Linked DNA regions of Homo sapiens. The protein of the gene in region 1 purifies or fractionates together with the protein of each later gene. This does not show direct contact. Each region holds a gene or a part of one and is shown on either strand. Other genes may lie near its edges.

Evidence for each region. The genes of interacting proteins can lie anywhere in the genome.
Region 2: the proteins of TPTE2 (region 1) and DIAPH3 purify together in Homo sapiens (affinity purification with mass spectrometry; 3 studies listed by BioGRID and IntAct, with this or other methods). This does not show direct contact.
Region 3: the proteins of TPTE2 (region 1) and HERC1 purify together in Homo sapiens (affinity purification with mass spectrometry; 2 studies listed by BioGRID and IntAct, with this or other methods). This does not show direct contact.
Region 4: the proteins of TPTE2 (region 1) and STRN3 purify together in Homo sapiens (affinity purification with mass spectrometry; 2 studies listed by BioGRID and IntAct, with this or other methods). This does not show direct contact.

Annotation. Positions count from the first base shown.
Region 1 is NC_000013.11:19,558,733-19,562,848, reverse strand, and holds the start of TPTE2 (phosphatidylinositol 3,4,5-trisphosphate 3-phosphatase TPTE2), read left to right. Parts: upstream 1-1,316; 5' UTR 1,317-1,415; exon of another isoform or gene 1,416-1,510; intron 1,511-3,719; 5' UTR 3,720-3,821; intron 3,822-4,116. UniProt on the Homo sapiens protein: Acts as a lipid phosphatase, removing the phosphate in the D3 position of the inositol ring from phosphatidylinositol 3,4,5-trisphosphate.
Region 2 is NC_000013.11:59,665,083-59,668,005, forward strand, and holds the end of DIAPH3 (protein diaphanous homolog 3), read right to left. Parts: intron 1,765-2,923; coding exon 1,502-1,764; 3' UTR 501-1,501; downstream 1-500. UniProt on the Homo sapiens protein: Actin nucleation and elongation factor required for the assembly of F-actin structures, such as actin cables and stress fibers. Required for cytokinesis, stress fiber formation and transcriptional activation of the serum response factor.
Region 3 is NC_000015.10:63,655,949-63,659,448, reverse strand, and holds part of HERC1 (probable E3 ubiquitin-protein ligase HERC1), read left to right. Parts: intron 1-715; coding exon of another isoform or gene 716-730; coding exon 731-905; intron 906-3,090; coding exon 3,091-3,361; intron 3,362-3,493; coding exon 3,494-3,500. UniProt on the Homo sapiens protein: Involved in membrane trafficking via some guanine nucleotide exchange factor (GEF) activity and its ability to bind clathrin. Acts as a GEF for Arf and Rab, by exchanging bound GDP for free GTP.
Region 4 is NC_000014.9:30,914,880-30,918,379, reverse strand, and holds part of STRN3 (striatin-3), read left to right. Parts: intron 1-3,500. UniProt on the Homo sapiens protein: Calmodulin-binding scaffolding protein which is the center of the striatin-interacting phosphatase and kinase (STRIPAK) complexes.

The DNA.
Region 1 (4,116 bases):
GCTAGTTTTTTTGTATTTTTAGTAGAGACAGGGTTTCAGCATCTTGGCCAGGCTGGCCTTGAACTCCTGACCTCGTGATCCACCTGCCTCGGCCTCCCAAAGTGCTGGGATTACAGGCGTGAGCCACCACACCCAGCCTAATTTTTGTATTTTTAATAGAGAGCTAATAATTGTATATTTAATAGAGACAGGGTTTCACCATGTTGGCCAGGCTGGTCTTGAACTCCTGACCTCAGGTGATCCTCCTGCCCTGGCCTCCCAAAGTGCTGGGACTACACTGGTGAGCCACTGTGCCCAGTCTACACACCAATTCTTGTTAGCCCAACAGCTGTGCTGTTCTATCTACCCCTCATTTCATGCTCAAGGAGTCATACCTAGAATAGTTACACACAAGAGGGAAACTGGCAGCCAAACACTGGACAGTATGTGTACAAAGTCACCTCCCTACTCCTTTTATTTTACATGAGTGCTGATGCGTTTTGGCAGATGAGCTTTCAGCTGAGGCCTGATGGAAGTTGAGATAACCTGCAAAGACATAACAATATTTATAGTTACATATCTTAGTTTTTTGTTTTGTTTTGTTTTCTTTTTTCTTTTCTTTTCTTTTTTTTTTTTTTTTTGAGACGGAGTCTTGCTCTGTTGCCCAGGCTGGAGTGCAGTGGCGGGATCTTGGCTCACTGCAAGCTCTGCCTTCCGGGTTCATGCCATTCTCCTGCCTCAGCATCCGAGTAGCTGGGACTACAGGCGCCCGCCACCACGCCCAGCTAATTTTTGTTTTTTTGTATTTTTAGTAGAGACGGGGTTTCACCGTGTTAGCCAGGATGGTCTCGATCTCATGACCTCGTGATCCGCCCACCTTGGCCTGCTGGGATTACCGGCGTGAGCCACCGCTTCCGGCCACTTAGTTCTTGAAATTGTGTGATGAGGCAGCAGGGAGGAGGGCAGGGCGGGCTCCAGGCGGGGGCCGGCTCTGGGGCCAGTCTGGGCCACGGTCGGGGCCCAGTCGAGGTCCGGACTGGTCAGGGTTCAGGCGGGATCTGGCGTCCGAGTTCTGGTGGGCCGGCCTGGGGCAAGATCTGGCTCTGGCTGCGGGTCCTGGCCCGGGTCAGGGTTGGGCCTCCGATCCAGCCCGCCCCGGGGCAGGGTTCAATCCCTCGCTTGCCGAAGTCCCTGGGGCTGGCCGGGGTGGAAGACGGGGAAGTCTCTATGTCGGGAAAGGGGCTCTGAAGACCACGTGGGGGCGCTCGAAGGGGCCTGGGGCCACCCTCCTCTCTGGGTCAAAGGTCATCGCAACGGCCGGGAAGAACTTCCTCTTCCTTGGCTCTCCCCACTTACTTCCTGATAACCTGGTAGCGGTCTCCCGCGGGCGTCGGGGCTTGCGGGGAGGCGTAGCAACTTTAGGCAACTTCCCAAAGGTGTGCTTAGGTTGGGGGGCGGGGCGCGGCGCCCCGGGAGGTGGCGGCGTCTGCGACAGCGGGAATATTAGAGTGGACCTGCAGGCCGGTCGCGAGGAGGTGGAGCGGCCCCCGCCGTGTGCCTGGGATCGGCATGCTGGGGCAGGAGGGCAGCCGCGTGTCAGGTGACCAGCGCCATGTCCAGCCAGGTGGTGGGCAGTGAGCCACTACATCATGGCAGAGCCGGCCAGGCCTGACAGTCCAAAGGGCTCCTCGGAGACAGAGACCCGAGCCTCCTGTGGCCCTGGCCCCTGGTCCAGCTCCCACCCACTGCCTCCCAGGCCACAAGGAAGAGGAGGATGGGGAGGGGGCTGGGCCTGGCGAGCAGGGCGGTGGGAAGCTGGTGCTCAGCTCCCTGTCCAAGCGCCTCTGCCTGGTCTGTGGGGACGTGGCCTCCGGCTACCACTGCGGTGTGTCATCCTGTGAGGACTGCAAAGCCTTCTTCAAGAGGACCATCCAGGGGAGTATGGAGTACAGCTGTCTGGCCTCCAACGAGTGTGAGATCACCAAGCGGAGACGCAAGGCCTGTCAGGCCTGCCGCTTCACCAAGAGCCTGCGGGAGCGCGCCTGGACCGCGTCCGGGGTGGGCGGGAGTACAAGCGGTGCCAGAGGTGGACCCGCTGCCCTTCCCGGGCGCCTTCCCTGCTGGGCCCCTGGCAGTCGCTGGAGGCCCCCAGACGACAGGCCCAGTGAATGCACTGGTGTCTCATCTAATGGTGGTTGAGCCTGAGAAGCTCTATGCCTTGCCCGACCCTGCTGGCCCTGATGGGCACCTTCCAGCCGTGGCTACCCTCTGTGACCTCTTTGACCGAGAGATCGTGGTCACCATCAGCTGGGCCAAGAGCATCCCAGGCTTCTCATCGCTGTCGCTGTCTGACCAGATGTCAGTACTGCAGAGAGTATGAATGGAGGTGCTGGTGCCGGGTGTGGCCCAGCGCTCACTGCCACTGCAGGATGAGTTGGCCTTCGCTGAGGACTTAGTCCTGGATGAAGAGGGGGCACGGGCAGCTGGCCTGGGGGAACTGGGGGCTGCCCTGCTGCAACTGGTGCGGCGGCTGCAGTCCCTGCGGCTGGAGCGAGGGGAGTACGTTCTACTGAAGGCCCTGGCCCTTGCCAATTCAGACTCTGTGCCCATCGAAGATGCCGAGGCTGTGGAGCAGCTGCCAGAAGCTCCGCACGAGGCCCTGCTGGAGTATGAAGCCGGCCGAGCTGGCACCGGAGGGGGTGCTGAGCGGCGGCGGCCAGGCAGGCTGCTGTTCACGCTACCGCTCCTCCACCAGACAGCGGGCAAAGTGCTGGCCCATTTCTATGGGGTGAAGCTGGAGGGCAAGGTGCCCATGCACAAGCTGTTCTTGGAGATGCTCGAGGCCATGATGGACTGAGGCGAGGGGTGGGACTGGTGGGGGTTCTGGCAGGACCTGCCTAGCATGGGGTCAGCCCCAAGGGCTGGGGCGGAGCTGGGGTCTGGGCAGTGCCACAGCCTGCTGGCAGGGCCAGGGCAATGCCATCAGCCCCTGGGAGCAGGCCCCACTCCCTCCCCTCCCCCCTCCTAGGGGATGTCAGAAGCTGGAAACGTGTGTCCGGGCTCTGGGCACAGTGCTGCCCCTTGCAAGCCATAGCGTGCCCCAAGAGTGTAGGGGGCCTTGCCGAAGCCACAGGGGGCTGCAGGGGATGTGTGGGAGGCAGAAGCCTATCTCAGGGAGGGAAGGGGGTGCAGGCCACAGTCTCCCAGTGGGTGATGCTTTTGCTGCTGCTTAATCCTACCCCCTCTTCAGAGCAGAGTGGGACTTGGAGAGCAAAGGCCCATGCTCCCTTTGCTCCTCCTCTCATCATTTGCATTGGGCATTAGTGCCCGGCCTTGAAGCAATAACTCCAAGCAGGCTCCAGCCCCTGGACCCCTGGGGTGGCCAGGGCTTCCCCATCAGCTCCCACCCAGCCTCCTCGGGGGTAGGAGAGCACTGCCTCTATGCCCTGCAGAACAATAACACTATATTTATTTTTGGGTTTGGCCAGGGAGGCGCAGAGACATGGGGCAAGCCAGGGCCCAGAGCCCTTGGCTGTACAGAGACTCTATTTTAATGTATATTTGCTGCAAAGAGAAACCACTTTTGGTTTTGAATCTTTAATGAGAAAAAATATATATACTATCGAGCTCAAAAAGAAAATTGTGGAATGCATGATTGACAATGTATTTTTTATTTCTATTTTTTCAAGTAATGCCAGTACTGTTACAGCCAGCACTGACTAAAATTTTTATATTTTCAGAGTTGACGCTGGTGAAGACATTCATGATTTAAACACCAGATCCTGAAATGTGTTAAATCTACTTTGAAATGAATCTGCAATCAGTATTTCAAAGCTTTTCTGGTAATTTTAGTGATCTTATTTGACTAGACTTTTTCAGAAGTACTAAATAAGGAATTTTAACAGGTTTTTATTAATGCACAGATAAATAGAAGTACAGTGAGGTCTATAGCCATTTTATTAAAATAGTTTAAAAGTTTGTAAAAAAATGAATCTTTGTAATTACTTAATATGTTAGTTAACCCATCAAGCTTATATTTGCTGGACTTACAACTTATTTTAAATACGTTTATCTTTTTTGACACTATTCAGTGGAATGTGTAAGCTAGCTAATTCTTGTTTTCTGATTTAAAGCACT
Region 2 (2,923 bases), about 40 Mb from region 1:
AACTGATAGTGAGAGTTCTTTCATTTAAATTCTTTCCTAAACAAAACAATCCTGCCTTGTTGTTAGGGGTGCCGTCAGCTTAAATATGTAAATGTCCTTCACCTTTCTTGATTTTTAAGGTTTGTTTTCAGAAAAACAGGAATTGCAACTGGATGGCAAAATGCACATTTCAGCAATACATACAAATTCACATTTATTCCTACACTGGCTACAGAGAATACTCTGTTCTCCAATGTCTATAAACAGGGCCTGGCTCATAGTTCTAATTAATTAACTTTATTAACTTAGAGCTGAAAGGAGGTGGCAACTTAAGGAAATAAAAAGCAATAGACCTTGCCCGACTAGTTCCATATAACTGCTTTTTAACTGAAGGTAAAAGAACAGTCACTTACTTATTACATGTAATAAAGCAAAATAGATGCTTAGACAGACTGCATAGCACAGTCTATTCTCAGCTTATCCACAGAATGTTTTCAAAAAAAGAGAGACAAAAGAAAGCATTTTTTTTCATTTAGTGCAAGTAGCAAGTTTATTTCCTTTGATATAGAATTAACAGAGTAATGATGCCCAAATGAGGTAATATTACATTTGCTTAGGAAAACTTTCCTTGAAACACTTATTTAGATCTTTGTTAAAGTTATTGATTGTCAGATCAGAGAAATTGCAATCCCAAGTTTATTCATAAAATAAAAAAAGTTGTTACTTTGGAAATTTCAAAATGGCAATTTTATCTCAGAGTCATAATTACAAGGGGAAAAATACTCTCTTAGCCAAGATCAAGAATTTCGGCAGCACTGCAATTCTGTTTACATCCACGTTACACAAAAGCACATGCATTTGGCAAAGAGAGTGCATACATTCTTATTGCATCATTTTTCGTTATGTGCTCAATTGCCTTATGGTCCCCTAGAGGGTCTACTTAACATGAATTCAACAATGATGATAATGGGGTCACCAGTCATTTCCTTACATATATAGCTCTGATGTATTCAATTACATGTTTTTGATGTTGTGCTGGTAGTATATAGATCCCAATTAAGGAGAAACTTGGGCCTATATAAACAATATATATGGAATATACATGGATATGTAAAGACTTGAGGTTGATGACCTGACATCCATTAATGTTAAAAATAGTAAAGTAAAAATTCCAGTGGCTTAGAAAGATGGTATTTTCTTAAGGACACACTGCTGAACACATGGCCACCTACCTGCTCTCTAAAGCAATATGTATAATTTAACCACCAAATAAAGAACTGAGGAATACCAGGAGACAAAAAAAAAAAAAAAAGGATTAAAGCCCGGTACAATCTTGAATAAACCAAAACCTCCAGTACATAGAAAAAGCATTGCAATCATATATTTAGCTTTATTTTTCTAATATATATCATAATTTAAAACTATATAAAGTCACTTACATAAAAGCAATTTTTTCAAGTGTTATAGTTTAGAGCATGGCTTTATATTTGGCTTAATCATTTTTTTTAAAAACCAGTTTAACTTATAAAGCTCGTAATCTTGCCAGCAGGGCTTCAACTTCGGGAACTGATTCATTTTTAGAAAAAGAGCCAAGAAGTTCCGTTTCCTTTTTTCTGTTGCTTTCTACATTACACGCTTCCTTCTTCTCAGCTGCCTTGATCCTCCCAGTAGACGTATGAGTGTCTAGATTATAATTAAGCTCCTTGGCGACTGGAGTCCTTGTTGAGTTGCAATTGATATTGTAGTGTGAACGTGACCCTTCTGTCAACTGCACTTTCTGATTTTCTACAGTAAGGAAAAAAGAAACATAAAACTTATCACCATGATAACCAAGGACTGTGCACGTTATGAAACACATTTAAAATAATTATTCTCAATAAATAAGTAGTCTTCTTAGATAGACTAAACAAAGAAACAGTCAACAGAGTAAGACAGGTTTAAAATAATCACACAGGGGTTTAAGAATAAACTAAAATATAACAGCCAACCGTTTCATTAGCACTAATGCCCATTTCCTTCTTCCTTTATGCCTGACATGCCTGTCACGTGGTTATTATCAGGGCCTGGTCCCATATTTCTTTCAGGTCTCTGTTCAAACACCACCTAAAAAGAGAGGCCTTCCCTAGCCACCCATCTAAAATAGCATTTGCCCTTTGCACTGCTCTATCCTTCCCCGTCATGTTTTCCTTCACAGGGCACATGATGGCTGGACACACAATATATTTGCTCACTTGTCCATTGTCTGTCTTACTAGAATGTGTGCTCCAAGACAGTAGGGACATTATTTTAAATACTGCTGTAACTTCAGGGCCTAAAATGGCCCTGGTGCAAAGTAGGTCCTCAATAAATATTTGTTGGATAAATAAATAATTTCCACACTCTGTGACACAAGATTAAACATTAGCTTGAATAATAATGAGATTAATTTCCTTTTTGAATGAAATCAAGAAGGAAAGTTTCTAATAAGAATTTAAAAAGTCGATTATTTTCCTTTAAAGAAACAATGAACTTGGCAAGCAAATAATTAAAACTTCCTAGCAAACCAGAATGTTATATGTAATTGTCAAGTATATACACATCTATACATACATGCATGTACATATATACATACACACATACATTCTTTTATTGGTAAGTGATGGTAATGATGACTTTTAAAAAACAGACACCCTCAATATTCATGTAACCTTGAATGGGGCTTGAAAATGGCTTCAACAAACCTGACATGACATTTAAAGTTTTTTGGTTATTCTCTGAGAGATGTTCCATTGTCCCAATAGTAATGACTTTGGAGCACAAGCAGTCACTCATGACAGTGTGTTTTATGTGAGTGCTGAAAATTCCAACTGAAAACAGCTTGTACATTAAAAGGTGGCTGCTGAAGATATTTACTGCACTGTCATTTTCTGACCAGAGGCTTCCAGTGATGGATGAGGATTTTACA
Region 3 (3,500 bases), on another chromosome or scaffold:
AGACCCATTTCTATTAAAAAAATGAAGAAAAGTAGCTGGGTGGGTGGTGTGCACCTTTAGTCCCAGCTACTCAGGAGGCTGAGGCAGAAAAATTGTTTAATCCCAGGAGTTTGAGGTTATGGTGAGTGATGATTGAGCCACTGCACTCCAGCCTGGGTGACAGAACCAGACCCTGTCTCAAGAGGAAAAAATAAATGTTTTGATTTTTTTTTGTCTTTCATGATACCGAAGCAATAAAAAGATTTATAGAACTTGTTATTTAAAAAAAAACTTGGTGTTAAGAGAATCCTGTAACCAACTTAAAATTATTGTGCAGTCTTCTTTTTATTTGGGTGAGAGGGTGTGGTAAATTTTTGGTATAGGGAATACAAAATAAAGAATTGGGCAGTATTGGTAATTCAGTCCTTTATAAATTCTCAAAGCACTTATAATCAGTAGATGTGATACATGGGCAAAATGAACAAAACAGAAAATACTTACTGGTAAATTAAGTATAAATACTCCTATGGTAAATACATTGTTAACATAGAAATATCTAAGTTAGAAATATCCAAGTTCAAACTTAGAAATATGTGAGTTTCTCCTAAGAAATTTTCTGTATAACCAAGTTCCAGATGAGCAAAAGACATTGGTTTGTTATGGAACCTCTGTAGAATAGGAAATGTTTTTAGTAGTTCAGATGTATTTTTTTCTTACCTTGTTGAGAACAAAACAGAATTATGTTTTTCAGGTTGCCATGGCTCCGTAGAAAAGAGCTCCTCTGGGAGAATAACGTTAGGAGAGCAGGCAGCTGCCCTAGCAAACCCTCATGACCGTGTGGTGGCTTTAAGGAGAGTGACTGCTGCTGCTCAGGTTCTTCTGGCCAGAACCATGGTCATGAGAGCGCTGTCTCTTCTCTCAGTCAGGTAAGTGTTATTTTATGTCACATGATGCTAAGTTAACTTCTAGTGTACATTAGCTGGAAGTCTGGTGGTGTTTGGGAGGGTGAGATAGAATTTTAGAAGCTTGAATATGTACTGTTGAATGAAAGATGTTAGACGTAGTCATTGTTATTCACTCAATCGGTCATTCAGTTAATACTTGGCTCTTTTTAGGTAGAAAATAATGCCATTATCACAACTGAGTAAACTGCATACATTTTATTTTGTTGCTTGAAATGGGAAACTAAGGCTGTTGATCCCAATGGTGCTGGATCAAAAACTAAAGGTCAAAATGTATTGACCGTCTGTGTAGCTAAGTCAGCCTGCAGATGCCATCATGGGGATCCTTGCCGTGTTGATACTGTGGAGTGTAATGTAAAAAGGGGATGAGAACCAGAAATACCTAAAAGACAGCTGTTTAAGAAGTGATTAAGCAGGAGTATTTAATGGCAAATCAGTGAAGGCAGAAAGATCCTGAAAGAAAAACAAAATTTCCATAAGACTGTGTGCTATTGGCTCAAGGATAGGCAAATAGGATAGTACAGAAGAGAGTTAAGAAACTGACCCATACATATAAATAAACACTTGATTTATGGTTTGATTTATGACAGTGGTTCACACTGTAGAGCAATAGAGAAAGGCTGTTTTTTTCAGTAACTGAAGCAGGGTCTGATGGTTTATCCACATAGAAAAAAAAAGCCTTGGTCCCAACCTCAAACTATATAAAGCAAATAGTTATAAAGTGGCTATTAGATCTAAATATAAAAGAAAAATAAATCAATAAAGTTTATTGAAGGTAACATAGAAGAATTGCTTCTTGGTCTTGGGACAAGCAAAAATTCCTCAAGCAAGTCACAAAAGGAATCTGCCATAAAAGATTGATAAATTGGAATACAATAAAATAGAAAACCTCTGTTTAGCAAAAGTGATTTGAAAAGTAAGAAAGTAAAAAAGCAAGCCATAGAATGGGAGAAGATATTAGTAATGCATCTAACCAACAGAATGTGTAAAGAATTCCTATAAATTAACAAGAAAAAGACAACCCAGAAGAAAGTGGACAAAACACATTAAGAAGTGTTTCACAAAAGAGGATCTCCAAATGGCCAATAAACATGAAAAGATGTTCAACCTCAGTGAGTCTTCAGAGAAATGAAAATTAAAATCCAGTGTGATTGGGAGGCCAAGACGGGAAGAACCCTTGAGCCAGGAGTTTGAGACCAGCCTGGGAAACATAGTGAGACCCTGTCTCAAAAAAAAAAAAAAAAAAACCTAAGACAAAAAACCCACCAATGAGATACCATTGCACACCCACAAGAATGGCAAACATTTAAAACACTAGAGAGAAAAAAGTGACTGAAACAGCTAAAACTCCCATACATTGTTAGTGAGAAAATGAATTGGTATAACCACTTTGGAAAACTGTTCGATAGTATCAACTAAAACTGAACAGGAACATACTCTGTGACCCAGAGATCCACTTCTGGGTATATATCCAACAGAAATACTTAAATATGTGCCCCCTAAAGACCAATCATTCATGGTAGTACTATTCATAATAGCCCCATGTTGGAAACCGCCTGATTGTCATCTGTAGGGATAAATGAACTGTGGCAGATTTCATGTATATGTCAATGAAAACGAACTGCTCAATGCTACAAGATTTGGATGAATCTTACAAACATAATATTGAAGAAGCCAGACACAAAAGAGTACATATATTAATTATTCAATTGATGTAAAGTTCAAAAACAGGCAAAACTAACTTGTAGCTTTAGAAGTCAGGATAGTGGTTACTTCTGAGAGCATCGTGACTGAGAAAAGCCCAAAGCAGGTTTCTGAGGTACTGGCAATGTTCTGTTTCTTGATCTGGAGGGCGGTGACATGGGTTTGTTCAGCTTATGAAAATTTATGCTTTGTGAACATTCCTGTTTTACTTTGTCAGTTCAATTGTACTTCAAGTATATGCCAATACTTATTAAAAGGAGAGAACGTTTAGATGCCAGTTTCCAGCTTGATACCTTTGGCAACTCTTAGGACATGTATGGCTAATGATAGTGCAGCTTACATTTTATTATGGTTGTTGATGCTGTGAATGTTATGTGGGACTGCAAATGGTCCCTTAAGAAATCCATTTTCTTTATCCATCTGAGATGTTTTTCTTTACTGGCAGTGGTTCCAGTTGTAGCCTGGCTGCTGGTCTTGAGTCTCTGGGGCTAACAGATATCCGAACGCTAGTTCGATTAATGTGCTTGGCAGCAGCAGGGAGAGCTGGCCTCTCCACCAGCCCTTCTGCCATGGCTAGCACCTCAGAACGATCACGAGGTGGGCATAGCAAGGCTAACAAGCCTATCTCTTGCCTGGCCTATTTGAGCACAGCAGTGGGATGTCTGGCATCAAATGCTCCTAGTGCTGCCAAACTGCTTGTACAGTTGTGTACACAGGTAAGCTACTTTCAGTACTTTTCCCCGTTACATTGATTATTTCTGACTGATTCTTGAGCCTTTTGAAATGAAATATTTTTGTTCCAAAATTACATGTAAAAATTAAGTCTGTTTTTCCAATTGCTTCTTCAGAACTTGA
Region 4 (3,500 bases), on another chromosome or scaffold:
ACACCACCATTCCCCGGCCAATTTTTTGTATTTTTAGTAGAGACAGAATATTACCATGTTGGCCAGGCTGGTCTCGAACTCCTGACCTCAAGTGATCTGCCTACCTTGGCTCCCAAGGCGCTGGGATTACAGGTGTGAGCCACAGTGCCCAATCTGTTACATTAAATATATATTACTTCAAAAAATATATGTAACTGTTACCTAAATTAATCATTTGAGAATAAGGCAGCATCATTATTCTTTAACTTGGTAGCAAGTATACGCTACCTAGTAATGAATTTTATAAAATTTGCCTAAACCAGAAATGTGTAGGAAATGAAAGTACTACTTAAACATTTTTTCCAAAATTGATTTTAGCCGAAGATATATGGGTATACTTGAATCATGTATAACTCTAAGTCTAGATATTTATAAGTATTAAATCTGAATTTTTAACCAAAGATTATTGTGACATATGAGATACAGTAATTTGGCATATGTATTAAGTTTAATTGATGTTATTGCCTTTGCTCTGTAAAGGGGATTTGTTTGATGTCCCAGTCAAAAAATTTTAAATACATCTTGTTCCCTTTTAAGATTTCCCTAGTGGCACAGTTTCCTTACAGTTAAATAATTTTGCATTTTTTCCCTCTCATAATTTACCATTTACTTCACTCACCTTAAAAAAAATCACTAAAGTAACAAAATCATTCAAAACAAAATGAATGAAAAATAAAATAGTGTCTGTTAATTTTTTCAGATCTCATTTCCACTATTGAGATATATTCCTGTTTTACTTTAGAAGTATTTTCTAAAATACACATAGCAACTCCTTTTTTTTTTTTTAATTTTATGCATTTAGTGGTGATTTTGCTTCGTTTTTGGTCTGTTTTGCCAAATATGCATAGTACAACTTGCTAAAATTTTTGTAATTAATGTACATTTAAAGTGCAGGTTTTGCAATTTAAGGCAAAGCCACGTTAGCAATGTGGACCCTTTTAAATGTTTCAAACCAATGACTTAACGGAAAAAGCCAGTCAAGGCACACTCTACACAAAAACCAACTTAGAACTCTCTATGTGTGTTTGTTTATGTGTTATGTGTGTGTTTTAAAGAAAGAATATAGGTCAGTGATCTGTTTCTTGATGCTGGTAGGAGGGCGAGGGGAGAGATTTGATAAGTGTGAACTTCATTACAGTTTTTGAAGTATCGATCTTCCTGGAATTTGTTATTTAAAGAGGTGTGAGTTTGACTTCAAGCTAAGAAGGCAGCTTTGGAGTATACAGTCTCCTTATTTTCAGTGGCAGTCCCCAACTTCCTTCTTTACTTTTGAAGTCCATGTCCTACCTCATTTTATAAAGAACAAATGTCTGTTTTCTAGGAGTGGAACTTCAACATTACAATCTTCTAGACTATTGCTGCTAAAGACTTGAGACCTACCATGTTGCCACTGGTATAAATGGAATCTGTTACCTGGACTAAGTTCTTGGGAAAAAGAGTTCAATATGCGAGCTACAGGTTTCCTTCATCATAAGTGTCCATCAAAAGGAAGATTAGTTACAAAAGTCTGAAAAAGACCTTGTATTTTATAGACCCGTTATACTAGTATTGTTATCTTACTTGATGAAATCTCTTAGGCCTCCTAAATTTCCATCATTAAATTAAAAACTAGGGCAGGCATAGTAGCTCATGCCTGTAATTCCAGCACTTTGGGAGCCCAAGGCAGGAGGATCACTTGAGCCCAGGAATTCAAGACCAGCCTGGGCAACATAGCAAACTCTGTCTCTATTAGAAAAAAAAAGAAGATATTAAAACTACTTTTTTTAGGCCGGGCGCGGTGGCTCACACCTGTAATCCCAGCACTTTGGGAGGCCGAGACTGGTGGATCACGAGGTCAGGAGATCGAGACCATCCTGGCTAACACGGTGAAACCCTGTCTCTACTAAAAATACAAAAAAATTAGCTGGGCGTGGTGGCGGGCGCCTGTAGTCCCAGCTATTCAGGAGGTTGAGGCAGGAGAATGGCGTGAACCTGGGAGGCAGAGCTTGCAGTGAGCCGAGATCGCGCCACTGCACTCCAGCCAGGGCGACAGAGCAAGACTTCAAAAAAAAAAAAAACCAAAAAAACTACTTGTTTAAATAATTACATTTTTCTTTGAATTACTAATGACATTTTTATATTATGGGTAATTATATTACCATTAATAAAATGAATAGGATAGAAATTAATTCCCTCTGCAGGGAAATAAGGGCAAACAGATGAGTAGCTGCTGTGATTACCATATGCCACAGTGATGGGTAATATGGAAAGCAGAGGTAGTAGTGTAAAAGAATTTTTGCACATATATGTGTAAATAGTGATTAAGCAGAATAGCTTGCAATAGGTACATAAATATGTCATAAAATATATGTGTGTATATAGAGAAAAAGGACAGAAATGTGGTCATATGATTAATTAGAAATGAGTATAATACTAATTTTTTGTTAAGTACAATTAAGCCAAAACTCGAGTAAAACTAATGTCCAGACACTTCCCTTCACATGCTCCTAAATTGGTCTGGCTGATCAGAGATAGTCTTGCAAAATCATTTGTTACGTTAAAGTTATTTTATTGGGCTTTTGAGATTTGTGTCAGTGAATGTTTGTATAATTGTGAGTGGGAGGAACTGTGGCATTTTGTTCTGACTTCTCTTAGAAACAAATTCCCTGAGCTTAAAGTAAAAATATTTCTTTGTCTAGAGAAAAATGCTTTGAGTAAATATTATATAATGACTTTTATATAATTATCCTTAAACATAAGTTTAAATTATTGATTTTATAGTTTTTAGCTGCTTCTGGTATTGCCAATAACTGCATACTAATAATTGGTAGGAAAAGATCAAAAGATCAATGCTACAGATTATTCAGATTCAATAAGTGTCATCATTGAAAGATTAAATACTACTTAATATCTCTATATATTTTCTGTCAGGTGCTTTCAGATTCATTTTAGATCAAGTAACTGAATCAGAGCTGCATTTTAGAGCCCTATTTGAGTCAGATTATATAGCTTATTTTGATAGGATAAAATAATAAAATAACAAGATATTCTAAGTACAGTTGAATTTTATTTTGCCATAGTATATATATGAATTGTGTCTTCTCAGAATTATTTCCAGTAGTTTAGTGATGACTGTCAAGTTTCATTACACCTGTTGTGTTTCCTGTAGCATATTTATATCATTTTTCATGGGAATTTTTTTAAAATTGATAATCAGCTTGATTTTTTGTATAATGTGTCCCTTTTAAATTTGCTCATGAATTTTAAGTGTGTTTTGATATATTGAGTTTTATATTATGATTTGAGTATTTCTCCCTTGTTATCTTAATGTTAAAATTTTGCTTTCAAAGCATATTTGAAATGATATTGAAGGTTGTTGCTTAAACTATGACTGTTACAACAAAATATTTAGATAATAGTCATTCAATTATGGCAGAGTTTAATTGGTCAGTAGTATGTATAGAAAGGAAAACGCATTTTAA